Linked DNA regions of Homo sapiens. The protein of the gene in region 5 purifies or fractionates together with the protein of the main gene of each other region. This does not show direct contact. Each region holds a gene or a part of one and is shown on either strand. Other genes may lie near its edges. The genes, in order: UBA6, SERPINB5, PADI3, PI4K2A, KIF3A, PREP and CAMSAP1.

The links.
Region 1: the proteins of KIF3A (region 5) and UBA6 purify together in Homo sapiens (affinity purification with mass spectrometry; one large-scale study listed by BioGRID and IntAct). This does not show direct contact.
Region 2: the proteins of KIF3A (region 5) and SERPINB5 purify together in Homo sapiens (affinity purification with mass spectrometry; 2 studies listed by BioGRID and IntAct, with this or other methods). This does not show direct contact.
Region 3: the proteins of KIF3A (region 5) and PADI3 purify together in Homo sapiens (affinity purification with mass spectrometry; 2 studies listed by BioGRID and IntAct, with this or other methods). This does not show direct contact.
Region 4: the proteins of KIF3A (region 5) and PI4K2A purify together in Homo sapiens (affinity purification with mass spectrometry; one large-scale study listed by BioGRID and IntAct). This does not show direct contact.
Region 6: the proteins of KIF3A (region 5) and PREP purify together in Homo sapiens (affinity purification with mass spectrometry; 2 studies listed by BioGRID and IntAct, with this or other methods). This does not show direct contact.
Region 7: the proteins of KIF3A (region 5) and CAMSAP1 purify together in Homo sapiens (affinity purification with mass spectrometry; one large-scale study listed by BioGRID and IntAct). This does not show direct contact.

What each region holds. Positions count from the first base shown.
Region 1 is NC_000004.12:67,631,230-67,635,347, forward strand, and holds part of UBA6 (ubiquitin-like modifier-activating enzyme 6), read right to left. Parts: intron 3,290-4,118; coding exon 3,200-3,289; intron 3,094-3,199; coding exon 3,013-3,093; intron 2,245-3,012; coding exon 2,116-2,244; intron 680-2,115; coding exon 628-679; intron 543-627; coding exon 479-542; intron 1-478. UniProt on the Homo sapiens protein: Activates ubiquitin by first adenylating its C-terminal glycine residue with ATP, and thereafter linking this residue to the side chain of a cysteine residue in E1, yielding a ubiquitin-E1 thioester and free AMP.
Region 2 is NC_000018.10:63,493,683-63,497,800, reverse strand, and holds part of SERPINB5 (serpin B5), read right to left. Parts: intron 860-4,118; exon of another isoform or gene 298-859; intron 1-297. UniProt on the Homo sapiens protein: Tumor suppressor. It blocks the growth, invasion, and metastatic properties of mammary tumors.
Region 3 is NC_000001.11:17,255,434-17,259,551, forward strand, and holds part of PADI3 (protein-arginine deiminase type-3), read left to right. Parts: intron 1-1,812; exon of another isoform or gene 1,813-3,565; intron 3,566-4,118. UniProt on the Homo sapiens protein: Catalyzes the deimination of arginine residues of proteins.
Region 4 is NC_000010.11:97,664,569-97,668,686, reverse strand, and holds part of PI4K2A (phosphatidylinositol 4-kinase type 2-alpha), read right to left. Parts: intron 3,803-4,118; coding exon 3,703-3,802; intron 2,250-3,702; coding exon 2,116-2,249; intron 1,627-2,115; coding exon 1,567-1,626; intron 1-1,566. UniProt on the Homo sapiens protein: Membrane-bound phosphatidylinositol-4 kinase (PI4-kinase) that catalyzes the phosphorylation of phosphatidylinositol (PI) to phosphatidylinositol 4-phosphate (PI4P), a lipid that plays important roles in endocytosis, Golgi function, protein sorting and membrane trafficking and is required for prolonged survival of neurons.
Region 5 is NC_000005.10:132,699,041-132,703,158, forward strand, and holds part of KIF3A (kinesin-like protein KIF3A), read right to left. Parts: intron 4,026-4,118; coding exon 3,845-4,025; intron 3,629-3,844; coding exon 3,518-3,628; intron 3,173-3,517; coding exon 3,047-3,172; intron 1,661-3,046; coding exon 1,607-1,660; intron 1,245-1,606; coding exon 1,176-1,244; intron 256-1,175; coding exon 131-255; intron 1-130. UniProt on the Homo sapiens protein: Microtubule-based anterograde translocator for membranous organelles. Plus end-directed microtubule sliding activity in vitro. Plays a role in primary cilia formation. Plays a role in centriole cohesion and subdistal appendage organization and function.
Region 6 is NC_000006.12:105,375,068-105,379,185, forward strand, and holds part of PREP (prolyl endopeptidase), read right to left. Parts: intron 2,453-4,118; coding exon 2,319-2,452; intron 1,189-2,318; coding exon 1,058-1,188; intron 1-1,057. UniProt on the Homo sapiens protein: Cleaves peptide bonds on the C-terminal side of prolyl residues within peptides that are up to approximately 30 amino acids long.
Region 7 is NC_000009.12:135,816,616-135,820,733, forward strand, and holds part of CAMSAP1 (calmodulin-regulated spectrin-associated protein 1), read right to left. Parts: intron 2,532-4,118; coding exon 2,395-2,531; intron 2,002-2,394; coding exon 1,793-2,001; intron 1,465-1,792; coding exon 1,362-1,464; intron 1-1,361. UniProt on the Homo sapiens protein: Key microtubule-organizing protein that specifically binds the minus-end of non-centrosomal microtubules and regulates their dynamics and organization. Specifically recognizes growing microtubule minus-ends and stabilizes microtubules.

The DNA.
Region 1 (4,118 bases), on a different chromosome or scaffold from region 5:
AAAAATATACATATACACACAAGTGTGAATCTAATGTGTATCTAATATAGTGTTTCCAGGTATTCACACAAAGACCAACTCCTCTGAAAATAATTTGAGATTTAGGGAGTTATTCAGTAGTAATTATTTGTTCCTCCATATAACTGAAGATTCTTATATTTGATTTCATTAAATGTAAAAACACATTGTCATTTTACTAATTTATGGATAAAGTAAAAAAGGTGATTTTGGTTTCACCTTAGATATTTATTATAAATAATGAGGTTATTTACCATGTAAATGAATGGATTCACATTTGTGTGGGAAGGGTTGTGGCTGGCTTTCTTGGTCAGAATGACTTGTTAACTCTTAAATGAACAGGGATGAAATAATTTAACATTAAAGAGCCTAAGGTTTTCACTCTGCAATGTACAGTTAAGGAATTTACAGTAAAGAAATATATAATGAAGGATACATAAAACTAAATATAAATACTTACAAAGGCTCATTTAAATCAAATTTTATTGGAGAGGGTGGCCTCTTTGGTGACTGCCAAAATAAACCTGGCAAAAAGATACAAATATCATTTTCAATGTATGTAGCCAGTAATAAATGTCATTAAAATTTATTCTCAACATTTATACTTACTGCCATCTTTTAATCGTATGTCCAGAGGGAAACAGTGAAGAAGCTGAAGAGCCTAAAGAAAAAAAATGAATTAAAGACACCCACTACTTAATATTATCTGAGGAAAAATTAAAAAATAAAATTAAAAAATGTGTGTAGTAAATATATGCACATGATTCAAAAATCAAAACACATTAAAAGAGACACAGTGAAGTCTCCCTACCACCCTTGTATTCCATCTGTCCATTCTCCTGTCAATGTCCCTCATAAATGAAAAATTCAAATATCATTTTCTATCACTATTTGTAGGTTTATTGGGAGGTGGTATCTACAGCAAACAAATGTAGATTACTTCACTCCTTTTTATATAAATGGCATATTTTACATGTCATTCTGTTCTTTTTAAAGAGCTAGTACTTAAATAACAAAACCAGAAAAAACACACAGTACTTTGTATTTTTGAAATTGATACATGTTTGAGATTTGCTTCAAAATCACCTGGGGGAAGGTAAGAATGAACGGGAATGGTGATGAAACAAGATTTATCTATGAATTGATAACTGCTAACCCTGGGTGATAGGTAATTGACAATTACATTAGGGTTCATTATACTATTTCCTCTACATTTCTATGGCTGAATATTTTTCATTATAAAAAAAGTTTAAAAAAAATGCACAGAAGATAAGAACTAAAGAGTTCCTTAGATTTTTGAAACGGGTCATTGATAACCATGTTAAGAACAATCTGAAGAGTAATGAGCAAAGAAGTCAAATTTACTGGGTAAAGAAGTGGTAACATTGAGTAGTACAGACCACTTTTCCAAGAAGTAGAGCTCTGTTGAAAGTAAAAAGAAGAAGTATAAACGAAATATTTTTTAAGTGGGGTGTGGTGGCGTGCACATGCAGCCTCAGCTACTTAAGGGCTGAGGCAGGGATCACTTGAGCCCAGGAGTTCCAGGCCAGACTGGAAAACATAGGGAAACCCTGTTTTTTTGTTTTTTTTTAAAGTTGTTTCTAAGGAAGATGAACTTAAGATCCTAAAGAGAGGGAAAGACTAAAGAGAAGGCAACACACATTCCAGCAACTATATTTAACTGGAGGTAAGAATAACAGCTAATATTTAGTAATTTTTTATGTGCCAGGCTCTGTTCTAAATGCTTTGTGTTACCTCCTTTTATCTTTACCACTACCTTATGTATTAGGTACAAATTTATTATTTCTATTTTACAGATGGGGAAACAGACATAAAATGTGATTATCAGATATGGGTGGAAATGGCAAAATCTCAGCAAAATTTCTGACTAAATGTCCCTATTTTCTCAGTTTCTTGCTTCTTCTATTCTGAACAAACTTCTTTTAGATTAGCATGTGTTCTCATTTAACTTACTACTAATTTCTGAAAAGCTTGCCAAAAGAAAGAATACACATTTCAGGTCAATGAAATTAATTTGTTAATAACTAAATAAGCCAAGATCAGACCTTTTCTTAATGTCTCACAATGCATACTTACCTTATGGTTAAAATATTTTTCAAACTTTAATCTTGCTAATTCTACACACTGGGACCAATTTCTAGGTCTTCTGCTAAGTAACTTTATAACTTGAAAACAGCCTTCTAAACTGTGTCCACTCTGTATCTTCTAGAATGGGAGAGAAAAAAAAAATCAACATACTTCCAATTACAAACATATACACATCCCTCACCAAAAGTTAGCCTAAGTTTGAAGTGTCAACTCATGTGTTTTATGCTTTTCTTTTTTCACCTCAAGCTCCTTTTCCCTTCCTTCTTCTTTAACCTTTCTTTTCTTTTCTGTTTGAGAAGGGGAATGGTAAGAGATAGCATACAAAATTTTAACTCTGATTTCTTATCTTACAAGTTATCCTCATATTTTCCTAGCTGTAAGTTATTAGTACTATAATATATGTACTCACTATAAGTGCTATGAATATTTGATACTAAAAAGTGGGCCTTGTTAGCAAAAGATTAAAAGAAAGTGAGAAAACATCTTTAAAGTTGCCTTCACTATAAGAGTAATAAGTCTTGGAGATTATTGTTCCCTCATGAAATTTTAACTAGAACTTACCTCAATTTTTTCTTTCCAAAGGGCTTAATAAAAGCCCTTTTATTATTTGTAGCCCTTCTATCATAATTATCATATCTTTATTAGCTCGCACCATACGAATTGCTGTTTTGTGAGTCGAACATGCTCAAATATCGACAATTCCATGTAGTTCAAACAACCAAAATGATAATTTGTGACCTAATTTCAAGATTCCTTATGTATCATTTCATTTTTTATATACAATCACTCTTTATGGAGGTAAAATAAATCACTTGTAGATGACTTGAAAATAAGATTACACTGACACAAAGTGTTAAGTTTGTATTAAAATTTACTGATTTTTACCTGTAAGACTTCTTCTGCAGATGAATAGGTTTGCCAAAATTTGTTAAACAATGAAGGTTTGTGGGAAAAGGAACTTTCAAACTGTAACAGAGAAAAGAAAAAAAAAATTACAAATAGAAGTCTGTTTAAAGTCAGAAATATCTTCTTTCTCACTTCAAAGAAAATAAATTTAAAAAGGAACTTTTACCTTATCTCTTGCCCACTGTATGGTATGTTCAATAGCAGCTGGAAAGGATTTTAGAGTACAAAATGGTATTTCCTCTTCTGGGGGATCCCGCTAATTTATAAAATATGACAACAGGTACTTAAGGGGAAGCAATGACCAATTTTTATTGATTTAATCTAGTTTTGAGCTTTAAGCCTATTAAAAATCCAAAAATAAATAAAATCCAACCAGACATTTTTATATCTTCTCTCTCTTAGGCAATAAGAGAAGTTAATTCTTTTGACATTTAACCTATTTGTTAATAGCTATGTAATGCCAAACATGAATCTTATTTATTATTTGTGTACTCATTTAAAGCACCATGTAGTACTCATGACACACCATCATCTATAAATCATTTTTTTCCTCATGAATCAAGGTGACATTTAAAGTTTTATAACACTGCCCCGCTTTGAAAAGTAATTCAGGAATACCCAGTATAGTGCTCAGAAAAGCATGAGTTTTTCCATGGAGAAAAACATCTGGGAGCAGAAATATGTCCTCAATGCTTGAGGTTTCTTGCAGAAAGCATGTATTAAATAAATGGTAAATACCTAAGTCGTTTTTTGTGGATAAAGTACCATTGAAGAAATCCACATTCTATTATAGAGTACATTTTGCCTAGGTTTATTGGTTTACCTAATCTAAAATGACTCACTTTGTCTCAGCAAGTGAATAAAATTTTATGTCTTTGTTGACAGTTCTAGTCTCAATCTAATAGTTTGTTCTTATCAAACAATCTTAAACTCAAAGGGTATTAGAAAACTAAGCAGCTCTGAGAAATAAATAGTAAACAGAAGAATAATGCTCCAGAAACACCAGACACAAAATTCTGATAATTAAAAAAAAGTTCAATTATATTTTAAAAAATGTACATGCACATATGTATGAACATCATTGG
Region 2 (4,118 bases), on a different chromosome or scaffold from region 5:
AAGAAAGAGGAACAGGACAGTGGAGTGAGCAGTGAAGGGATACATACAAAGCAATGCAACTGTTGTTATATTTTTTCTTTAAAATATCTGAAATAATTAAGGCAAAATATTAAGTTCAAAAAGATGATTGATCGGTATATGGGTGTTCGTTTTATTATTCTCTATCATTTTCTGAATGCTTGGAGTATTGCATAATTTTTAAAAAGGAAAATGTTCTTTAAAATTATCTCTAAGTCTTTTTAAAATTATCTCTAAGTCCCTTTGAGCTCCACTGTATGCTTGGCTCTTTTTTTTTTTTTTTCAGAAACGTTGTGTTCAATGGTAAAGCTTAGCACAGCCCAGCACCAAGAATGGTGTGCAGCCGCAGCAGCAGGGACAGGCAGGTGACCCCCACAGAGCTTCACATGGCGAAGAGGATAAGGAAGGCGACCATCAAACAGAAGAGCCCCATGGCCTCAGACAGGGCAAAGCCCAGAATCGCATAGGAGAAGAGCTGCTGCTTGAGAGATGGGTTCCTGGAATAACCAATGATCAAGCTGCCAAACGCTATTCCAATGCTAGCCCCTGAACCAACCACACCAACTGTGTCTGCCTCAGCACCAATAAACTTGGCTGCGGTGTCAATGTCCCAGGAGACAACCTGGTCTAGAACTCCTGTCTGGCCACACCTAAAGTGGGGAGCTGCTGTAGGAAGGCTGTTTAGATGAATGCTCTGGGCTATTCAAGAAGGAGGCAGACACAGGCCGGATTAGACCCCTAGTACAACAGCGGATCAGAGCTGGAGAAATAAGTAATGCCCCGGTGGGCTGCATTTTCTCAGTCTCCCAACTTTAGCCCTTGGTCTCTCCCTGCTCTTCTTAAAGGGAGCCCATGGAAGGGTCTGATCGTTCAGGTCTTTTATGTCCAAGCACTGCCCAGGCCTTTTCTTCTCTTTGCTCCTATTAACACCTGGCCTCCTGTCTCTGCTCCAGAGATGACTGATTTCCTGAAGGAAAATTAATTCACGCTAAGTTGTAAAAGACTGACAGTAATGTTGTATAACCTATTGACATATACCTCCCATGGGATATTTGCCTGTTAACTAAATCTCTTTGGGGAGAAATTTCAAACTTCATATCAAGCCTGCAAGGATAATACTCCAGTAAACTTGCATCTGGTATCTTCAAATACTAAGCTGAACCTTCCCCAATACCTCTCTCCAGCAGAGCTAAACGTTATTTATTTTACTTTTGTATATACCTCTATTTTAACACTTGCCACAGTGTTAGAAATATTATCTAGTGATTGTCTTTCCACTTCCCACCCCAACTAGAATACAGTCAAGGCAGAAACTAAGTCTCATTTTCTACCCCAGCTTGTAGTTTCTCACTGAATATTTGGCTGATAAATAATGGAAGACTTCAACTCTATGTGTAACCAAAAACAGAATTATAGGAAAACATACTACTTTGGAGGTTAACAGATAATTCTTCCCTTTATTTCTCCTAAAGAGGATATTGTCTTAAAATATATTCCTCCTAAAGAAATTTGTCTAAAAATCTCCAACAGGTTAGACTGCTCATAGTTTCTGAATGTGCACATAGTTGTGGCCTCCAAAAACTGTCATCAATTTCACTTATCGGCACTGACTACAGGTACTTTATTTTCTGAAACACATGTTGAGACGACATATCTTCTGAAAAGAGGACCAAATAAAGACTATCTACCCCAGAAAATATAATACAACATATATACTAATATAGATATATATGGATAGATATCTTTATCAGAATAAGTACTATACTAAACTTTTAATGATATAACTTCACCAATTTAGTCTAACCCTTACCGGAGACACCACGGGGCATAAGAAAAGGTTTAGTAATGTCACTCAAAAAGTTCTAGGGTGGACAAAGCAATTCAAAGAAAACAAAGGAGAAGTAATAGCATCTGCATTCAAAAGAAGGGTGTAGCCTCATGCAGCTGTGAATAGCATTTTATTGCTTTATCAAGTGAAACACTGAGAGATCAATGACATTTCAAACTTTTATTAATTCTGTTCATAAAGGCTGAGTTTCCAGGATCTTATATAACCCAGCTTTATGATTTAATAGCAAGAATAAAGGAATAGCACACATTCTTCCTCCCTTCTCAAAAAACACACGTTAATACTTTCTTAATGAAAAAAGTACGACCCTTAGTGTGGTTGACACAAAAGTCCACATTCTACTCATTGACTATTGCAACATTTTCATGGTGTTCCTTCCAGGCTGGCTCTGGGGTCTTGAAGAGAGGCACCATTGGCAACCTGTTTCAGATTTCACTTAAACAGAGTTAGGAACCCTTTGCCAGCCCTTGCTATGGAGGAGAGCCAATCACTAATCAAAGGAGCCAGAAGGGTCACTCTATGACAGCAAAGGCTGTGTGGATGCCGTCAGGGCCAGTGGGGCCAACACCCCTCCCTAACTCACAGTAGAGGCTGGGTAAAGTCACGTTCCACTTCCACTCCAGATAAAAGACAATACTGAGAAGGTCAAAAAGCCATGCTTAAAACTCAAGGACCTGTGTGTGCAAAACACAAGAGTGTGAAGAGCATAAGCTATGTCTCTAGAATCTCAGACAGACCTCTTGTGTGCAGGGTCAATCCTGTCTCTGCAGTCAGCTTTGAGAAGACCACTGCAGTTGGGAAGCTAAACTCAGGAAGTTAGGAGGACCTCCTACCCATCCCTCAGCTCCCATGGATATTTTGAGTTGGTAAGGAGCAGTAACAGTCATCATTGTCTTCTCCCAGTGAAAATGCCCAATGGGTCTTGCATAGGAAACCATGGTAGTCCCAAAGGCCAGTCAGGTTTTGTCTGCTATTGATTGTTTAAGCAAACTGACCCTTAGGGACTGATCATTCATTCAGCAAATTTGCTGAGCACCTACTGATGTGTTAGGGACTTGGCCAGAAATTGTAGACACTGAGGTGAATAAGGCATTGTCCCTACCTTAAAAATCCCATGCGCTAGTAGGGGATCTATGTAAGTAAACAGATTTCACTGTGGAAAAGCAAATTCTGGCAGTGGACAGGGGAGAGTATGAATAAAAATTCCATGGGAACAAAGAAAGAAAGAGTAATGGAAGCCATCCGGCTAACCCAGGCATAGATTGTATCTTGCAGGGCTTTTCCTCATGGATGCTAGCATTAAGAAGGTGCTACTATATTTGGCAAAAACAAGATATTGATGCTAAGTACTCTAACTACTGGGAGAAGCATGAAAACTAGAACTGACGCGTAGGAGCTACAGGTAACTAAGCTACCTTCAAGTATTGTACTAACTGAAGTGCTGCTTCCAGTCTAACACAAGTCAGATCCCACCCACGGAGACCACATCACATCATCATATAGATGTCTGGGTTTTCCAATAAAATGGGTCAAATTTCCAGTCTCAGTTCCTTGATCTCATTTACAAAAGAGGTACTTTACCCATTTCTTTTTTTTTTTTTTTTTTTTTTTTGAGATGGAGTCTCACTTTGTCACCCAGGCTGGAGTGCAGTGGCACAATCTCAGCTCACTGCAACCTCTGCCTCCTGGGTTCAAGCCATTCTCCTGTCTCAGCCTCCTGAGCAGCTGGGATTACAGGCACATGCCACCATGCCCAGCTAATTTTTGTATTTTTAGTAGAGATGGGGTTTTACTATGTTGGTCAGGCTGGTCTCAAACTCCTGACCTCGTGATCTGCCTGCCTCGACTTCCCAAGGTGCTGGGATTACAGGCATGAGCCACTGTGCCCACCCTCTATTAATTATTTAACATATTTACTTCAACAGTATCAATGAGACTGGCCTGCAAAACAGGCCCTTAATTCTTCCCATAATGACTTCCAGTGATGTCAATGAGTAAGCCATACTTTGTTTTTTCACAGCCAACAAGTGCCTGAAAGCATCTGGTCTTGTTGTTTGTTTGTTTGTTTGTTTTTCTTGAGGTGGAGTTTCACTCTTGTTGCCCAAGCTGGAGTGCAGTGGTGCAGTCTCGGCTGACTGCAACCTCTGTCTCCCAGGGTCTGATTCTCCTGCCTCAGCCTCCCATGTAGCTGAGATTACAGGCACCCACAACCATGCCCAGCTAATTTTTGTATTTTTAGTAGAGACAGGGT
Region 3 (4,118 bases), on a different chromosome or scaffold from region 5:
CAGGACTGGACCAGAAGCACTGCCTAGAAAGCCCAGAAGCCAGCATGTGACAGCTCAGCCATGCTGGCAGCTCGAGGTGGCCTGGAGAGGAAGGACTTTGTCCAGGTGAGGCTCCAGGTACTTCCCCTGTTCTCTAGGAAATGGGAAGCTAGATCCTCCCGTACCTGATGCAGGTTCTCCTCCCAGCAGCTGCCCCTCTCATTCTCCTAACACACAGCTTTCATGACAGGCATGAGCACTGGACTGGAAGTCAGCAGCCCTACCTTCTAGTCACTTATCTTCTGGGCCTCAGTTTCCCCATCAGTGAAATGAGGGCATGACTTTTGCTCATCCTGAGTGCTTTACCCACACTGGTTCCTTTCATCTTCTCCTCATCCCCACCAGATAGATGTCGATGCTGCGGCTGAGGGAGGCAGTCACTCGCTCAAAGTCACACACCTAATGAGTGGTGGGACTGGGATTTGAACCCAGTTGTCTGGCCCCAGGGACCACAGGCTCAAGTACCTTGCCACGGCTCCATCATGTTGCCCCTCCTGATCAAGAACCAGCGCTGGCTCCCCATTACATAGGGATGAAATGAAAACAAGCTCATTATAGCCTGAGTCTAAACTAGACCTCTTAAGGTTCCACGGTGAAAACACCTTCCCCTCACTTGTGTCTCCTCTTGGTGCCTTCCCTGGGGAACCTGCCCCAGCCACCCAGCCCACTGTCTCATCCTGCCTCCAGACCCGTTTCCTGCACCCTCATTTACTTTAATAACTCCTTCCCTGTCCTGGGCCAATGGTGTTGCAAGCCTTTCCTGTCTATTATCACACTTGAGTTTCATGATTGCCCATGAGGTTGGCCAAGTAGGTGTCATTATCCCACTTTAAGGTGAGGTTAATGGGCCCAGAGAGACTAAGTGATTTAGTCAAGCTCAGCTGGCCGATGTGTGACCCAGCCTGGTCTAAAACCTAATTCTTGACTCTGGTCCCAGCACCACCTGAGCCCTCGGCTTGCAGCCCCTCCCTTCCCCAACCTCAGATGTAGCTTGTTCACCTGTGCTAAGCCCTTGTTCAGACCGTGGTCCTGGGGACCCTCCTGGGCAGGGGTGCTTCAGTCTTCACTGGGGATCCCCCAGCATCTCACACAGAGCCTGGCACATGGAGAGGCAGGGGCGCTGGGCTGAAACACCCTACACCCAGGGGCTGGAGCCTGGGGACTGAGTGGGGTTTTCATACCAGAAGGACCATCAAGGGCGCTCAGCCCTTGCCCATGGACACTGGAGGCCCAAGGAACAGCTTTGGGGTTGAGGGAGTTCCATAAAAAGTGTACAGGCTTCAGCCAGGCGCGGTGGCTCGCGCCTGTAATCCCAGCTGGGAGGCTGAGGCAGGCGGATCACTTGAGGTCAGGAGTTCAAGACCAGTCTGGCCAATATGGTGAAACCCTGTTTCTACTGAAAATACAAAAATTAGCCGGACACGGTGGTGGGCTGTGTTGTCCCAGCTGCTTGGGAGGCTGAGGCATGAGAATTGCTTGAACCCGGGAGGTGGAGGTTGCAGTGAGCCAAGATTGCACCACTGCACTCCAGCCTGGGCGACAGAGCAAGACTCTGTCTCAAAAAAAAAAAAAAAAAAAAAAAAAAAAGGCTTCCTTGGGAGATGGAAGGCGAGTGCCTCAGGAGCGTGGCTGAGGGTGTTCCCGAGGGTATGAGAGGCTGCTCTTCCTACCTGGGTTTGTCTTCCTGTGTCTCTTTCCGACTCCCTGTCTCTGACTCTCCATCTCGCTGGGTCTCTCCAAGTCTCTCTGTCCCTATCTCTCTGTCTCTGTGTCTTCATGCCTCTCTCCCTGGTTCTGCCATTTCCCCTGTGGGGGGCTGCCCAGGGCCAAACAGGCCAGAGGGCTCCACCAGCCCTGGAAATTACAGGCTTTGGGAGTAGGGTTGCCAGATAAAATAAAAGATGCCTAGTTAAAATTGAATTTCAGGTAAATAATTAATAATTTTTTTAGTATAAGTGTATCCCAAATACTTCACGGGAGTACCAAACAATGATTGACTGTTCACTTGAAATTCAAGTCCAACTGAGCTTTCTGTATTTTTATTTGCTAAGTCTGGCAGCCCTGCTTAGGAGGAGAAACAGGTGTGTCTGTCCCTCCCAACTGGTGAGGACACCTGACAGGGGCCCAGACACCAGAGTGGGACCTGCCTGATGGAGAGAAGCTTGGGCTTGGTTTATTTCCCTTTTCATAAAAAAGCTGCTTTGAGATGTAAGAGAATCATGTTGGTGGAAGAGTGAAGAGGTTGTTTTGGGGGAGGTCTGCCTTACTCTGAGGGAAGATGGGAAGCGGGGGGAGTGGCCAGCTGTGGAAATTTGGGGTAGTCCCCTACGTATCCTGTGCCTCAGTTTCCCCATGTGTAAACAGGAGTAATTATCTCATCCTGGGGCTGCAGTGAGGATCAGATGAGCTAATGTACAAAAAGGCTTAGGCAGGCCTGCCGTGATAAGAGTGCAGAGGCTGGGGGCTTTTTATGTTATGGTATTGTTGTTATTATTACTCCTGGGGAGGTGGTGGGCAAGAGTGTGGACTGAGGAGCCACATGGCTGGGTTTGGATCCCAGCCCGGCCACAGACCTTGGGCAAGTTACTTAACCTCGGCTTTCTCATCTGTATAATGGGAGACAATAATAGATAGTGCCTCCCTTCTAGGGTTATTGAGAGGATTGCATGATGGGCTGGCACACAGCATGAGCTCAGTAAGTGTCAGTCACTGTTATCCCCCAGGGGCATGCATGCCGCTGCCTCCAGGAGGCCCTCCAACTCGCAGTGGCCTCTCCCTACATGGGTTCCCACTGAGCTGTGATCCTGTGGCCTTGAGCCCCATCTGGCTGCCCTGGACAATGTTGGTCCTCAGCTCCCCAGCGGGATCAACAGTGGGGAGAGCAGTGGGTGGATCTGCCCGCCAGGCAGTACCTGAGTGCACAGTGGGCACCCCACAGTCAAAGGATGCATAGTCTGGTTTCCAAGGAGGAACCCCAGGCTAGGTGGAATGAGGGAAATGCAATCTCAGGGCCAGATAACATCACAGATACTTTAAACCTGCAATTAATTTCTGGTTGTTTGACCAAATCCGGCCAAGTTTCCCGGGTGACACTGCAGAGCTGTGGAACAGCATGGGCTTGGAGTCAGACCTGTTGCACATCTGGCTCTGCCATGTGATGCAACCTCAGGCTTGTCACGAGGCCTCCTTGAGCCTCAGTTGCTAATATGCCAAATGGGGATGATATTGCTCACCTTACAGCTTGTAAGAGTGGAGGGAGCTGCGTGCGCCAGGTGCCTGGCATGCAGCGGGCACTCAACCAGATTGAATTCCCTTCCCAGGGAAGAATTCAAGGATATCTTCCCACCCACTAAGGAGACATGTGATGGGATCTGGGGTGAGAATTGCTCTTTTTAAAGCTCTCAGAACTGTAAGGGGCTCCACCCACCAATGGCTGGTGTTCACTGAGCTCTTCGTGCCCAGACCTGCACTGGGGATTTATCGAGCACATGGCTGGCTTCTGACTTCCGAAGAGCTCGCCATTCTGGTGAGTGGTAAAGAAACTCACAAGGGAAATGTTAATGAACACAGGGGCTTAGAACATCAGACTGTGTGTATGTTTTTTTGTTTTGTTTTGAAACAGGGTCTTGCTCTGTCGCCCAGGCTGGAGTGCAGTGGTGCAATCTTGGCTCACTGCAACCTCTGCCTCCTGGGTTCAAGCGATTCTCCTGCCTCAGCCTCCCCAGTAGCTGGGATTACAGGCATATGCTACCACGCCTGGCTATTTTCTTGTATTTTTAGTAGAGACAGGGTTTCACCATGTTGGCCAGGCTCGACCTCAAGTGATCCGCCCGCCTCGGCTTCCCAAAGTGCCTGACCTCAAGTGATCCATCCGCCTCGGCTTCCCAAAGTGCTGGGATTAAAGGAGTGAGTCACCACGCCCGGCCGACTGTGTATATGTTTGTGTGGGGTCCAGGCTTGACTCGCAGGAGCTTACTGTGAGGATCTGAGGGGACTGGGTGGCCAAGGAAAGCTTCCTGGAGGAAGCAGGGCTTGAGCCAAAGCTCAAACATCTGAGCAAAATATATCTCCTTCGGCAC
Region 4 (4,118 bases), on a different chromosome or scaffold from region 5:
CTATTAATACTACAAATTGAGTATTTTAGTATACCAGGTACTACTCTAACTGTTTCAAATCATTTATCTCATAATAATTCTGTAAGGTGGGTACCATTATTATTATCTTGAGACAGGTTCTCACTCTGTCCCCTAGACTGGAGTGCAGTGGTGCCATCTCAGCTCACTGCATCCTAGACCTCCCAGGCCCAAGCAATCCTTCCACCTCAGCCTCCTGAGTAGCTGGGATTACAGGCGTGCGCCACCACACATGGCTAATTTTTGTGTTTTTTGTAGAGATGGGGTTTCACCATGTTGCCCAGGCTGGTCTCCAACTCCTTAGCTCAAGTGATCTGCCCACCTAAGCCTCTCAAAGTGCTGGGATTACAAGTGTGAGCCACCATGCCTGGTCTCAGCTACTATTATTGATCCCACATTAAACATGAGGAAACTAAGGGAAGGAGAGATTAAGTAACTTGCCCAAAATCTCACAGGTAGTAAATGGCAGAGCCAGGCTTCAAAAACCCAGGCACTGTGACCACAGTTTGCACCCTTAACCACTAGGTCATCCCAACTCTCTTTAAGAAGACTTCAAAGTGATAGGCATAATACCAGTACCCTACAGAGTTTTCAAACCATTTTTCAAGCATTTCTTTACTATGCTTTGGAAGATCAACAATCCCCTTGGTTTCCTTAGCTCCCTTTGAAGGTGAAGTGGAAGGAGAAGGAATAATGTAAGTTGCACCTATAACAACAAAATTATAACCATAATCAATATGTGAGTGCTTCATGTGCCCAGTACTCTTTTTACTAAACGCTTGATAAGCATTATCTCATGAAATTCTCCAGCCAACTGTGCAACGTATTATTACTATCCTGTTTTATGAACAAGAAAACAGAGGCTTTTGCCCCAGGCCACAGAGCTTCCAAGTAGTGAAGCAGTCTGGCTCCAGGGCCCAGATCTTAACCACCAAAACATACAGCCTGCCTTGAGCAACTCTAGGACAGAGAGCATTAGTTTAATTACCAATGAATTACCTAGCAACTAGCATAGAGATGAGTGCACATTAAGTGCTTCAACAAGCACTGGATACCAGGGAAGAGGTGGGAGAATTGGGAGGGCCACTTTTCCTCTCCTAGGTGTTAAGGTACAGCCAAAAATAATGTACACAACGGACTTAAAAAAGCTGTAAAACACGGCCGGGCGCAGGGCCTCACGCCTGTAATCCCAGCACTCTGGGAGGCAGAGGCAGGTGCATCACTTGAGGTCAGGAGTTCGAGACCAGCCTGGTCAACATGGTAAAACCCTGTCTCTACTAAAAATGCAAAAATTAGCCGGGCGTTGTGACATGCGCCTGTAATCCTAGCTACTTGGGAGGCTGAGGCACAAGAATTGCTTGAACCTGGGAGGTGGAGGTTGCAGTGAGCAGAGATCATGCCACTGCACTTTAGCCTGGGTGACAGAGTGAGACTCGGTCTCAAAAAAAAAGGGGGGGGTATAAAACACAAACTTCAAACATTTGCTCAACCTGAGCACACAACACTCCCAGAGACGCCAAAGATACTGGGAGGATGTCCCAGGCTTACCTGGCCCCGCATGACAGCAATCTGCTTATGGAACTGGCCCCTGTCGAAACCAGGATCTTTCTGCAAAAGAAGACCAGAAGGAGATGGAACCTGTGTGAATGCCTCACAGGAACCCATTTTCTCCCCCAGTTAGAAACTTTCTAAGAAGGAAAACCTGCATAAGGCTTCTGCAGCTTTGTGAAGTCAACTACTCCCACAAGAACTCCCTGCTTTACAGATGAGGAAACAGAAAACAAGTCAATATCTTCCTCTGCATCTCAAACTCTAGGCTCCAGTGCTCCATATTAAAATGAAAGCCCTGCAGATACATTGCAGCCACATGATGGACAGGAGAGACACATCAGTGTGATTTCTCACCCCTGCCCATTTCTCTCAAACCCATCCAAACCAGGTCCTGCTGTCCACATGTGGAAATCTTGCTATTCGTTGGCTAACTCAAGTCAGAAAGGTGTTAGCCATTTCCTCTTGGCTTTTGTCAGGACCAATTAAAAAAACCATTAAAAATTCCTTCTCCCATATGATAATAGGGCTGAGGTTCCCAGGGCTAACCTTGAAGAGTTCATATAGGTCCTCTTCCAAGTCCTTGACGAAGTTAGGGTCCGATATCTTTGGAAGGATCAGATCTTTGATCTCCTGAGAAAATGGGACTTTCGCCTGGGGCAACCAGGCCCAGTAAAAAGGATCTGAAAAGAGGAAAAGTCAAAGGCAAAGCTGGTGTTGGAAAAGTCCCTGCTCATCTGTGTCCTCCACCAGTCAAGGCACTTTCTAAAGGAGAACCCCTCTTCCCTGACATACAACAGAAACAAAAACTTACAAGTGCTCTTAACTGTAAAGGTTACACAGCTAGTCAGTAGAGGAACCAGGGTTCAAACCCAGGGCTGCCTAATGTCAGAGCTCATTCTCAGACATTACATGACCTTCCAAGATGCAAGGTCTAGAAGCAACTACTTGCCACTGAGACGCTGAGATGGTCCTTCTGAAAAGGAAGACTAATGCTGCAAAAGGGGCTACTGACTCCCTACATTTATTTCTCCTCCTTTCCAGAAGCTTCTCAGTTACAACAGGGTAGGAGATGGAACAAGGAAGACAGAACACTGATAGGAAGCTTATATTTAGAGGCACAATTAGAATAAATTATGGAAAGACAGTCCTCAGATAACAGGAAAAAAAAAGATATTTCAGGAAATATACACTAAAACAATAAAATAACAAATTAAAAAATTAAAAAAGGGCCGGGCGCAGTGGCTCATGCCTGTAATCCCAGCACTTTGGGAGGCCAAGGCGGGTGGATCACAAGGTCAGGAGATTGAGATCATCTTGGCTAACACACTGAAACCCTGTCTCTACTAAAAATACAAAAATTAGCTGGGCATGGTGGCGGGTGCCTGTAGTCCCAGCTACTCGGGAGGCTGAGGCAGGAGAATGGTGTGAACCCAGGAGGAGGAGGTTGCAGTGAGCCGAGATCGCGCCACTGCACTCCAGCCTGGGCGACAGGGCAAGACTCCGTCTCAAAAAAAAAATAAATAAATAAAAAATAAATAGCCCTCAGCCAGGCGCAGTGGCTCACACCTGTAATCCCAGCATTTTGGGAGGCTGAGGCAGGCAGATCACCTGAAGTCAGGAGTTCAAGAACAGCCTGGCCAACATGGTGAAACCCCGTCTCTACTAAAAATACAAAATTAGCCGGGCGTGGTGGCGCATGCCTGTAATCCCAGCTACTTGGGAGGTTGAGGCAGGAGAATCGCTTGAACCCAGGAGGTGGAGGTTGCAGTGGGCCCAGATCGCACCATTGCACTCTAGCCTGGGCAACAAGAGCGAAACTCCATTTCCAAAAAAAAAAAGTCCTCAGAAAGAACGAGAAGAATGCAAAGAGACAATGAGAAAACTCATCTTTATGCTTCTAATTTCTAATCACCTTTATGCTTGTAATGGGAATCATAGAAGACAAAAATTAGAAAAACAGCTTACATTATGAAATAGTTGCCATATGCCAGCCATTGTGTTAAAGTGCCTGAACTCCATTATTTCATTAATTTTTAGAATAATCCTATGATAGAGACATTATCATCTCCACTGCACAGTGAGAAAATATACTGAGCAAGGGAAGAGCCAGACCACCATTGTCTGGAGACTTACATGCCCTCCAGGAGTCAGGATGCTTCAGTGGGAAGGCCAGCCCATTGTCTATGGCAGCCACCTTGATAACAGGCTCCTTCACCACCACCCAGTCTGTGTCCTGAAGAGCAAGGAAAGACTAATGACTGAGGAAACCCATCTCCCTCAGGCCCTTCCAATTAGTAGCAAAGCAACTCATCCCAACTCCCTCAAGAGAAGAATTCTTATTGAACTTATCTTGAGCTACTCTCTGAACTGGCTTCCATGTTGTTATCTGAACTTAGCACATTTTGGTGCCTCTGACCTGGCTCTTGTTCAAAGTTCAAGAGTCCTGTTCTTATCTTAGAAAAGGTACACTTCCCCAAGAGTTGCTACAGTCCTTGGTAAGAAGGAAATGACAATAATAAAGATAACTATAAGCCATTCCTCCTAGGGAA
Region 5 (4,118 bases):
AATTTGATTTTTAATAAATCAGCCAAAATATGTATCATGTTTTAACTAAATAAATTTTAACTTCCTGTACATGTATCTAATTAGAATACCTCAATGCCTTCGTTTTACCAGATTCAAGGACAGTCCTTACCTTCTCCCTGTCTTTGGCCTTGCTTTCCCCTTTGAAGTTCGTGGTCTTTCTAGTTTCATCAAAGACTGACGCAGACTCTCCTCAGTATAGGCAAGATACACGTGAGAAAGGTCCACCTCAAAGGGCTAAGTAAAAGAAACAAACACAAAGCACTCTTAAGGCAAAGAGTTAAAGCCAGATTTGGGGGAAGATTTAAAATACTGAATAAACTCCTTGATCAAACCCACAGAAGCTAAAACCAAAGAAATGTCTAATGACATCATCTTCTAATCCCAGTATCTAAAATGTACTTAATAAAGGTTGGTGAGTAAGAAGCCCTGACACACTATAAATTTCCTTGGACATAAAAACTGTTGCTGTTTTTCTTAAAGCTGCCCCCTCTTCTTCTTCTTTTTTTTTTTTTTTTGAGACGGAGTCTCACTCTGTCGCCCAGGCTGGAGTGCAGTAGCGCGATCTGGGCTCACTGCAAGCTCCACCTCCTGGGTTCACGCCATTCTCCTGCCTCAGCCTCCTGAGTAGCTGGGACTACAGGCACCCGCCACCACGCCCGGCTAATTTTTTTTGTATTTTTTTAGTAGAGACGGGGTTTCACTGTGTTAGCCAGGATGGTCTTGATCTCCTGACCTCGTGATCCACCCGCCTCGGCCTCCCAAAGTGCTGGGATTACAGGCGTGAGCCACCACGCCCGGCCCGCTCCCTCTTCTTCTTGACCTAGGACTAGAACTAGCTTTGAAGAGAAAGAAAGACACATTCTAGTCTCCACCCATAATCCTACGACCCAGAGTGGTAGTGAAAAGAGGACTCCAAAGAGTGAGTCCATGCCCCTCTTGTGGTGGGAATAAGCCTGACATCAAGACTGATGGTAAGCAGAACTGTCCTCCTCATCACCCCATCCTAGAGCCTTTATTCCCAAAAGTATCAGCCCATTTTTCAGCAGAGCTGATTAACAGATATCAAGTTGATAATACAATTTAATGACTCATATTCCTATAAAGAAACAACAGTAGTTTTGTGTTTTGTTTTGTTTTTTTTTAAGTACTCTTACATCTTTCTCCTTTTTATCAGGTACTGGGGTTTGCTTCCTCATGTTATTTCCTGTATAAGCAACACATTTCTCAAAAAAAGAAAAGGGAGAGACAGAGAAATGTCTTAATTAGTAATCAATACTGTGAGTTAGGCAAATAACTGAGAAATCCTAACATTACACTAGTAAAACATGATTTGAATGCTAGAGCAGAAAGGGCCCCAGAGGTCACTTAGTCCCACATAGCCCCTAACTCTGACCATTTCCACCCAGACCATGATCTGTATGTTACAATTAATTACATGGAATTAGAAAAATATTTTATCTGCCCTACTGGATTCTCATCTGATTCATCTACTGGACCATGTTCCTCCCCACTGTAGCCAGCACAATTTCTAGACCATAGGAAGTACTCTTTAATTATTACGTGAAAGAATGAAGGTAATACTCACTAGCTGCCATTCTCCTATGTCTTCATTCCAATGGACATAGTTTTCAATCATTTCCTTTTAAAAGGGTGAAAGATAGCCTATTTTTAATATTTAATAACATCTAAAATATTGAAGTCATAAAACTAAAATCTTAATAACATTGAGTAATAAAAGTCTCAAAACATTATATACTGATATAACCTTTTTATAAATTCTAAAATACATATTTCTTAGGAATGCATGCAGATGAAATAAAACTAAATGAAAATGAAAAAACAACAGAATGAGAAACTTGGGAATCAAGATAATGATTACCTTGGGTTGGAAGAGGCAAAGGAATGAAATAAGGGAAGGGGAAACTGGTTAGAAGTAGTTATTATCAGGGTCCTAGATATTGTTTTGGGTGATGAGTTCATTACAAAATAACTAAATAAAAGCAGGCCATCCAAGGACCAATAAGGAGAATGTACCATGAACCCAGGACTAATTCCATGTACCTGAGGTCCAAAAAAAAAAAAAATGACTAAGACTTATTTTCAGACAAATTTCTTAAAACTGTATTGAGATTCAAAACAGATTTTTAAAAAATTGGCCAGGCATGGTGGTTAACACCTGTAATCCCATCATTTTGGGAGGCCAAAACGGGCAGATCAACCTGAGCTCAGGAACTCAAGACCAGCCTGGCCAACATGGCTAAACCCCATCTCTACTAAATATACAAAAATTAGCTGGGTGTGGTGGTACACGCCTGTAATCCCAGCTACTCGGGAGGCAGAGGCATGAGAATCACTTGAACCCGGGAAGTGAAGGTTGCAGGGAGCCGAGATTGCACCACTGCACTCCAGCCTGGGCAACAAAGTGACTCTGTCTCCCTGACAAAAAAAAAAAAAAAAAAAATCATGTTAAAGTTTACCAAAATGCACTGGAAAGACAAATTTTGGATTAAAAAAAATAGAGGCTGAGATTTTAAAATTATACTAGTACTAAGAATTAGCATCCATCTGGAGATGAATGATGGTACAGGTTGCACAACAATGTGAATGTCCTAAATGCCATTGAACTGCACACTTAAAATAGCTAAGATGGTAAATTTCATGTTATCTATATTTTACCATATACACACACACACACAAAGAATCAGCACCCACAGCAGGGAGAAAAAGGCAGCACAGAGGTTCCATTTATTCTACTTGTATGATAATGGGCGCTGAATGAAGGAATGGGACCTACACCTTGATTCTGATCACATATACATGAATCTGAGTTCGTCTAAAAGGCTAGATACTCAAACAGAGATTATGTATTAAAAGTTAACAACTAAAGTGAAATGTGATGGCATTTGTTCAAAAAATTGTACATTCAATAACTGAAGTATTAAGTATTTATCATCAGTTAAATTAGAAATCTTTGTTCCTTAATCCCAGTCAAGCGACTATCTCGGTCAGAGAACTTCCTTTTTACCTGATAATCCCGAGGTATAAAGTTATCAATAATAAGCATCTGAAGTCGAAGCTCCCGGCTAAGTTGCCGAATGTTCTCCAGTAGGCCTTCAATTTCCCTCTGATGTTCTTGTTGGAGATCAGCCATCTACCAGAAAATCCATAAAAATATTATGAACAAACAAGACTTTAACTACAAAACAGCACCATCTCACATAGGATGCTTGTCTAAGAAACCTTGTGAGAGCTTACCTAGTTCTTTTATAAAAATGATAAACAGCGTGACACTATCAGCATCTATTCTACACTATTTGTTAAGGTTGAAAAGAAACAATTTAGACTAATAGATAAAATTAAAAATTGCACATAAAGAAATATTTTATTTCTTTTAAATTATAAGCTCACATTATGATTATTTATAAATTCTTAATCAAAGAACTCCCTTTTAAAAAATCCAGAACTGCATTAGTAGGTAATTTCTAAGAGAACCAACCTCTGACTTTGCAGCCATCAGCATAGTCCAAACTTTCTTTAACTTCTTGGTCTTTCCCTGTGCTTCCTCTTGCAAACTGGTATATTTTTCTTCAATATCCAAGCGTTCTTGCTATGACAAAAATTAGTAAACTTCAGAATAAATTTCTTTGTAAAATCAAATATCTAATTCTTTAACAAATGACATAAATGTTTAGCAAATCTGATCTTCAAAGCAATCCATAAATATGCTTTAAAATTTCAATACGATTATAGATATTTAGCTTTCCACTAGAAAAGTTAAATCTCTCTGGCAAAATACCAAACTAAAAACAGAAAGTCACATTACCTCTTTTTCCTCAAGTTCTCTGCGAAGTTGCTCTGCTCTTTTCCTCCTTTCTTCCAGTTCCATGTTAGATTCTTCAAGAAGTTTCTCTTGTTCCTCAGCTTTGGCCAACAAGTCAACCCCACCAACAATTACCTTCTTTTCCAGGGCAGATAATTTTTCCAGCAAAGACTGATGCTCTTGTCTGTTGATTAGAATGAGAATACTCTATATTCACTGATGATCTATTATTCTACTAATATCATTTCCCAAAATTTAAAATTTGGATATACAATTT
Region 6 (4,118 bases), on a different chromosome or scaffold from region 5:
GATTCATGGAAGAATCTGAGCTGGTGATGTCTTATTTTCGATACTGGTTCGATAAAGGATCATTGTTTATATACACAGCCTATTCAGAGGGAGGGGAAGGTGGACCACCGAATGACTGGATCATGGTTAGAAGTGTTTGTATAAAAAAGGGTCTTTGCACAGGTCTGATGGAACGGGGCTCTATAACTCCCATCTTATTGATTACAGAGGACTTCAATGTCTCAATTTCTCAATTCTAGAGGGCCATAACTAATCATATGGTTTTTTCTATAAAACCAGAAGGTACTACAGGAGAAATGCTGAGCCAACGTCATCTATAACATCATTATCATTGTAGAGTTTACAATTATTAAAATACAGAACTGGAGAATAACTTAGTTCCTTACCCTAGAACTCTGCTTACTGCAGAAACCTTGGATAATCTTCTCTATGGCCTACGGAGGAGGTTATCTTAGGGGCAGAGTTAAGTAGGAGATGTACAGCAACTGTGGACAAACTTAGTCTTTAAACCTCCATCTTCAGGGAACAGGATACCCAGCTGTTCAATTTCTACAAGATTTGTGTGTTTTTACTTGTAATTCTAACATGTTGACAATTAACTAGATTTTTAAAACTCTAATCGCCTCCTTCCCAAGAGGGAAACTGATCTGATAAACATTCTTTCCTGTTTAATATTATAGTTGGAATAATCTTTGTACAGCTTAAACTTCTTATAGAAGACGACTTATTTTTTTCTAATCACAGGTAGGTCTCAGGGATGTTGGAGGAAATGATGATGATATGTCAAGATTCCAGAAGCCCTAGAAGCTAATTTGGGTCCAGTGTTAATTATTTTCCAGTTCTGCTTCATGCCATCAGAGTGGAAAAGAGGAATGTGACTATTCATGTATTCTAAATATACTGTGCAAAAATTAGCTTTCCTGATATTGTATGTGCATCTGTTCCACAATATGGTCCACACCCTGCCTGGCATTTCAGAGGTAAAGCAACTGCACTAACTTCAGAGCTCCAAGTGAGGGTCTTAGGAGTTCCACGGGCCTCTCTGTGTAGCACTTACCTCGGAGTGCCACTGTGCCATCGTCAGACAGTATGTTGGGGTCCAGGAACACTCTGGCCTCACCCTCTAAGGAATCCTGTACATATAATACTCGCTGGTTCTGCAAACCTGTATTGTAAAAATAAAAATACCTGGGGAACAGAGATGGTCTTTATTCAGCTGTGGAGTTTTCTATTTGTGGAGTAAAACCAAACACACACAAGCAAAAACCAAAACAAAACCAAAGACCTAAAAAGGTACCACTGTAATCTGGCCATCGCAGGGACGTGGGGACATGGGTGAAAGGTTCCATCATTTCTCTCTACCTAGAGCTTGTTAACAGAATTGCTTCCATATTCAAATCCTGTATTGTAATCCTGCACATTAGCCGAGTAGAGGCAAATAAAGACCATTTTATGTGTTAAAATAAAAATTGATATTCAAATAAAGCAGTAACTTTTTCTTTTAAATGAAGAAGAAAGCAGACTTTTCTAAAATAAAATTCTGGTTCTTTTCCCTAGCAAGGCTGCTAGGGTGGAAGGTCAGTACACTTTCTCTGTAAAGGGCAAGACTGCAAATATTTCAAGCTCTGTGAGCCATACAGTCTGTCACTATAATACTCAGGCCTGTAGCTGCAGCACAAAAGCAGCTATGGACAATACGTAAACCGATAAGCATGGCTGTGTCCCAATCAGACCTTATTTATAAAAATAGGTAGGCAGCCAGGGTTTGGTAGGCAGACTGTACGTTGCCGATCTCTGTAAGAATGGCAGAGGGCTGAAGAAAGTCTAAAGTAAATGTGTGATAGTGGCTCCAAAGAGATTTAATAAAAGATCAAGAAAACATCTGTAAGTGGGTGTTAACGGGACAGGAACAAGAGAAGTGAATTCACCCATTTCACCATTCTTTGACAGAAGAAAAACACAGAATTAAATGTTTCCAAGTAGTATACATCAAAGATAATTAACTTCGGAGGCAAACAAACCTCCACTGCTGTCTATGAATCATCCTATCTCACCAATTACTACCGATAAGACGACGATTTCCTATAATCTAGATTTCTTTATATGACCTATCCCTACTAAATTTCTTAACTATTATTTTAACAATTTGGACAATACCTAATAGATCAAAAATATTACTCTCATATTCAGGCATAGAAATTAATTCCTTATAATGAATTAATCTTATACAAGGACAAGTTATCTGGAATTTGTATTTTACAATTTAAGAAAGCATTTACTTTGAAAATAAAAAGGAAATTCAGTAAAAGCAGTCTCACCGTTTTCCTTTCTTGAAGTGGCAACTATACTTGGGATAATCATATAGTTCAGTCATTCTCTCTTTGTATAAACCTCTGATGGGACACTGCTCAAGAAATGGCACAGTAATCTTATTCTGGGCCTCCACAAAGGCCTGTGGAGAAATTAAAATGGACAAAGCAAGTTAAATATAAAATTTTCCATGTGAAATATTATCCACTAATATGTATCAGAAAAAGCACACTTTGTCTCTTAGCCAGTGCCTCTTCTCTCTCATTACCAGCCTCTCTCACCTCCTTACTCTTCTTCATACCTGCCCAGCTCCTGCCAAGTGACTGATTAATATGTAGTAACAACCAATGCTTACATGGTACTAACTCAGCTAATGCTTACAGGGCAAGTATTAACTTATTTAGAACTCACAATAATCCTATGGAGAAGGTCCTTTTATTAGGCCAACTTTACAGATTGGGAAACTGAGGTTTGGAGTGGTTAAAAAGTTGCCCGACATCATACAGCTAGGAAGTGGCAGATGGCAGAGTTGGCTCCCAGATCCACGCTCCTAACAAACACACTATACTGTAGCTCAGATCACACACTGCCAATAATCTGCATTTACGCAGTGCCATGGTTCCGGGATTCTTATTCAGCACCTGGCCATCCCAAGAGAAGTCAGAGTCAAAGAGAGAAAGTTAGGGATACCCAGGCGCTATTTTATCGATTTTGGCTTTGTAAGACCTACTACCATGTTAATTTCAATCAGAGAACTTTGCTAAAATTTGCAACCAAAGAACATTGAAAAAACATTGGAGGCCAGGTGCAGTGACTCATGCCTGTAATCCCAGAACTTTGGAAGGCTGAGGCGGGTGGATCACTTGAGGCCAGAAGATCGAGACCACCCTGGCCAGCATGGCGAAACCCTGTCTCTACTAAAAATACAAAAATTTGTCAGGCGTGGTGGTGGGTGCCTGTAATTCCAGCTACTCAGGGTGGCTGAGGCACAAAAATCGCTTGAATCCGGGAGGCAGAGGTTGCAGTGAGCCAAGATCGTGCCACTGCACTCCAGCCTGGGCGACACAGGGAGACTGTCTTAAAACACACACAAAAACAAAAAACACCTGAAACAAGTGGCATTGCAGAAGAATATCAGCAACATGGTTTATAAGAAAGGCAAGAGATGGCCATCAGGAAATACTGGTAGTGAAGGCAGGAAAAGGGGCTTTTACAAAAGATGAGTTGTATCCAAGCACACCCTATTTGTAACTAACCAGTTAAAAAGTTGACAATACCATAAAAACTTGGCTACTAGTAATTCACATCTGGCTATTAGCAAGAAATGAAACAAGAACATTGTATCAGCTTTAAATTCAATAGAAGATTTCATCAGATGTCTATAAATAAGTAAATCATCAGGGAAAAACTTCAGGAAATTAAGACCATAATATACTTTGAATGGCAGGGAAAAATGCATTATTATCAGAGTTCACTTTTGGATATATCATCAAACTCTAAGGGCCCATCCAAGCTCACAATGGTCTTCAAATGTGCAACAATGCTTTGGGTTCCCCTACAAAAACCACCAATCCCACTCTGCAGAACCATGATTTTGTGGTGAGACAAACTGTTCCAAAGCTCATTGATTACAATGCATTTAAAAACAAGAGACAAGGGATGTAAAGTATGAATACAGTAATTAACATTTTTGCAAGAGGACCAGTTCAAGAAAAATAAAACTGTTACAGGTCACATTTCTGATTTCATTTAAACAGAAAATAAAATTTACTGAGTCCCACAGAAATACAATTCCAACTATCACTAGG
Region 7 (4,118 bases), on a different chromosome or scaffold from region 5:
AGAACAAAAACCCAAACAGAATCTGCAGTCCCTCGGAGGGATCTGCCACAAAGCCCAGAGACAACAAGGAGCCATGAGACGGGTGAAGAGACAAGAAAACACGGCCCACAGGTGCACACAGAGCAGGAGCCACACGCTGTGCATATAAAAATAAAGGGACACATGGGCAAGGGAAGCCCTTGCTCCCACGAGAGCTGACAACACGCGTGGAGGAAGCGGTGAGCAGGAGCTCCATGGTGGTCACTAAAGCCCCTGCGGGACAGTTCCGTGAGGTCCAGACCAGTCCCCAGCCTCTCTCCTGAAGTTACTTTCTCATCACAGGAGCGGTCCCGGGGCCCACCTGAGAGGCTGCGTTGAGAAAGACGCACACTCACTTCTGGGCTGCTCAATCAGCAGCGCGAGGCCTCAGTCTCATCACAGGAAGCCGATACTGAGAGGCAGCCAGAAGGATAACTGACCTGTGGTTACCAAAAGTCAAGGTCCAGAAAAACACAGAAAGGCTAAGGAACTGCTCTGGATCGAAGGAGACTACAGGGACATGGCATTTCAAGGCCATTCATCGCCCCAAACCAGATCCTGGACTCGGAAACAACACAGTTGTCAGGGACACTCTTGGGATAACTGAGGACAGCTGAATGGGGACCGCAAATCGGATGAAAGTGCTGCCTTGGTAACTGGTAACACGAGAAAACATTCTCGTTCTAGGAAATACACACTTAAGTATTTAAGCATAAAAGGCCAGACATCTCCAACGGAGTGGTTTTTTTCTGTTTATTTTTGCTTTTGGGGGTTTTCTGGCAGCGTCTCACTCTGTTGCCCAGGCTGGAGTGCAGTAGCCTGAGCACAGCTCACTGCAGCCTCAACTTCCTGGGCTCAAGCGATACTACCACCTCAGCCTCCCAAGTAGCTGGGACTATAGGTGCATGCCCCCACACCCAGCTAACTTTTTTTTGTATTTTTTGTAGAGATGGGGGGGTCTCACTCTGTTGCCCAGGCTGGTCTGGAACTCCAAGGCCCAAGTGATCCTCCTGCCTCAGCCTCCCAAAGTCCTGGAATCATGGGTGTGAGCCACCACGCTTGGACTCCAACGGACTCAAAACGATGAAGAAGCAGGTGTGCACGTGTGGGGTGGGGGACAGGGGAGGGTGATAAGGTGAAGGCTGCCACGTTTAACCAGCTGGGGAGCCCGTGTGAAGGGCACTGGTATTCCTGATGACATGATTGCAACTATTCTGTAAATGTGAAATTATATCAAAATTAAAGTTACAAAAGCCTCTCTCACCGTGTTTAATCAGGAAGTCCCACCCTGCCCCTCCGAACGTCCTCCAGCCCCGTGCCGGCGGCCGTCTCAGGCCCCTTACCGCTGAGAGGGTGTGCCCCCGGAATGAACGCTCTCGGGTTCTGTCGTCGCCGCAGAGGCCAAGGACAGGCTGGAGCCTGACTGAGTCCGGCTCAAGTTATCAGCTGCCAGAGACAGAAACAGACGACGGTTCATGAACGGATTCCGACAGACAAGTACCTGTCCCCTGTACCTGTTCCCCTCACCTCGCCCTGCAGAGCTCGGCCACACAGGCCGCGTCCCCACCCCATCCCGGGGAGCCGGGCTGCGCCTGGATGTGCCGCACATCTCAGAGCATCTGGTCTCAACATTGTCATCCATGAAACGGGGATAATCATCTCCACCCTTCCCGCCTCACACCACTCTTGATGACAAAATTGAAATGAGCTGAAGAACGTGAGGCCGCCGCCCGCGGAAGGAAGCGCTGCCCGCGTGAGGGCCGGGGCTGCTTACGGGTGGAGGAGCACTTGGTGCCGGAGTCGCTGCACGACTCTTCCCGGTGCACCGACTTCGGCCGCGGCTTCTTCGGCTTTGACTTGGGCTTGCCGAGCCCCTGCTCCTCTAGGATCTGCTGCTGCTTCCTCCGCAGGTACTCCTGCTTGATGAGCTCGCGCCGCGCCTTCTCCTCCTCCTTCCGCACCCGGTCTTCCTCAGCTTTGCGCCTGAGAGAAACACACGCCCAGACACTGCTCGGTCACGGGGCTTCTTCCACGACGCCTGCGCCGCGGCGCTCTGTCCAGGCGCGTTTCTCGGGTTCTCCCCGGCCGCTGGGACCAAGAGTGGCCAGCCTCCACAAGCGGGACACAGAGGCTGCAAAGGCAGTCCTGCAGATGACCCACCGAGGCCACACAGCCTCCCTGGCCACCGGCAACGCACGTCCTCACTGAAGATCAGCAGGGGCCGTGAAAGTTCGGGGAGGTGGTCCATGGGAGGAGTAAGACCGTCACAGGCACTCATTGCCATGGTCCATGCTCAGTGCCAGCAACGGGACCGGGGCCGCCAGGGACCCACCAGGCTCCTGCTCAGTCTGCTTTCCCCCCCGGCGGGACGCTTACCGGGCTTCGTCACGCTTGAGCTCCACCTCCGCTTCCAGCTGCTGCTTGCGCACGCGGGCCTCCTCGGCCTTGCGCTGCTGCTTCAGGAGGAAGGCCGCCCGCTTCTTGGCGAGCTCATCTTCCGCTTTCTGTTCATCCTGCAAGACAGAGGCCACACAGAGCATGACAGGAACCCCCTCAGACGCCGGACACGGCCGCACTCGACCCAGCAGCCGACTTCCACTACGCTTTTAAAAGTTTAACGCATAAAGACTTCTATGCTTTTCTCTAACCGTTACAGACTCTGAAATACGAATGAAGACAAACCAGGGCATTTCAAAGGCGCTCGGCATCACCCAATTTCCCAAACATCTCACGAGATCCAGTTTGCCTTAAAAAGTACACGTATATTTCCAAAATAAGAGCGAGGCTGGGCAGAATGGCTCATTCCTGTAATCCCAGCACTTTGGGAGGCTGAGGTGGGTGAATCACTTGAGGTCAGGAGTTCAAGACCAGCCTGCCCAACATGGCGAAACCCTGTCTCTATTAAAAATACAAAAATTGGCTAGATGTGGTGGCTCACGCCTGTAATCCTAGCACTTTGGGAGGCCAAGGAGAGTGGATCACCTGAGGTCAGGAGTTCAAGACCAGCCTGGCCGACATGGCGAAACCCTGTCTCCACTTAAAAAAAAAAAAAAAAAAAAAAAAATTAGCCGGGCATGGTGGCACACGCCTGTAATCCCAGCTACTCAGGAGCCTGAGGCAGAAGAATCGCTTGAACTCGGGAGGCAGAGGTTGCAGTGAGCCAAGATCATGCCCTTTTACTCCAGCCTGGGCGACAGAGCCAGACTCTGTCCAAAAAAAAAAAAGCGAAAAAGTGAATACTGAAGTTGGTCACGAATTTGTTTACATTTCAAAAGTGCAACCACCAAATAAAGCTTGCCTCTTTTGCTAAGATCCACCTGATGATTTGGTATCCTCTCAAATTCATAACTGCCTGGAGGCAAAGCAGAAACAGTTGCGTGTCGCTTGCCGAGAGAAAACGTTCTGAGAAATAGGTCCTCAGGTGACTCTGCTGCTGTGTGAGCATGACGGAGTGTGCGCACACCTGGATGGCAGCGCCCCCCACAGGCCTCGGCTACATCAGCCACTGCTCCTAGACTACAGACCTGCACAGCACATTACTGTACCCAATACTGTAAGTAACTGTGTATCAAAATCTATCTAAACATTGAAAAACTACCACGAAAACATGGTCTTATCATCTTAGGAGACGACGATATATGGTCTTATCATCTTAGGAGACAACGAACGTCACAGCAAACATCATGTGACGCACTGACTATTAAAACAGTTCAGTTTACGCTTCCCTTCATATCTAAGGAAAAAATTACAAGAAAAACATACAAAAAATGTTTTTTGAAGTTGCTATATCAGAGGTTGGCAAACTTCAGCCCACAGGCCAGGCCTGGCCACCTCCAGAGCATTCTAACGACGAACGCTTTTTACGCTTTGGGGCAGGACAGGGAGATGACAGGGTTTTGACTGGAAAACCAGCAAAAAAAAAAAAACTATGTTGAAAATCACATGAAATTCCAGTTTCAGGGCTCATAACAAAGTCGTCTCAGCCACACCACGCTCACTTGCATGCGTATTGCCCGGGACTGCTTCTGGCCAAGTGGAGTCCTCGGGACAGAGACTCTGTGGCCCACAAAGCTAAACACACACATCCCCTGGCCTCTTAC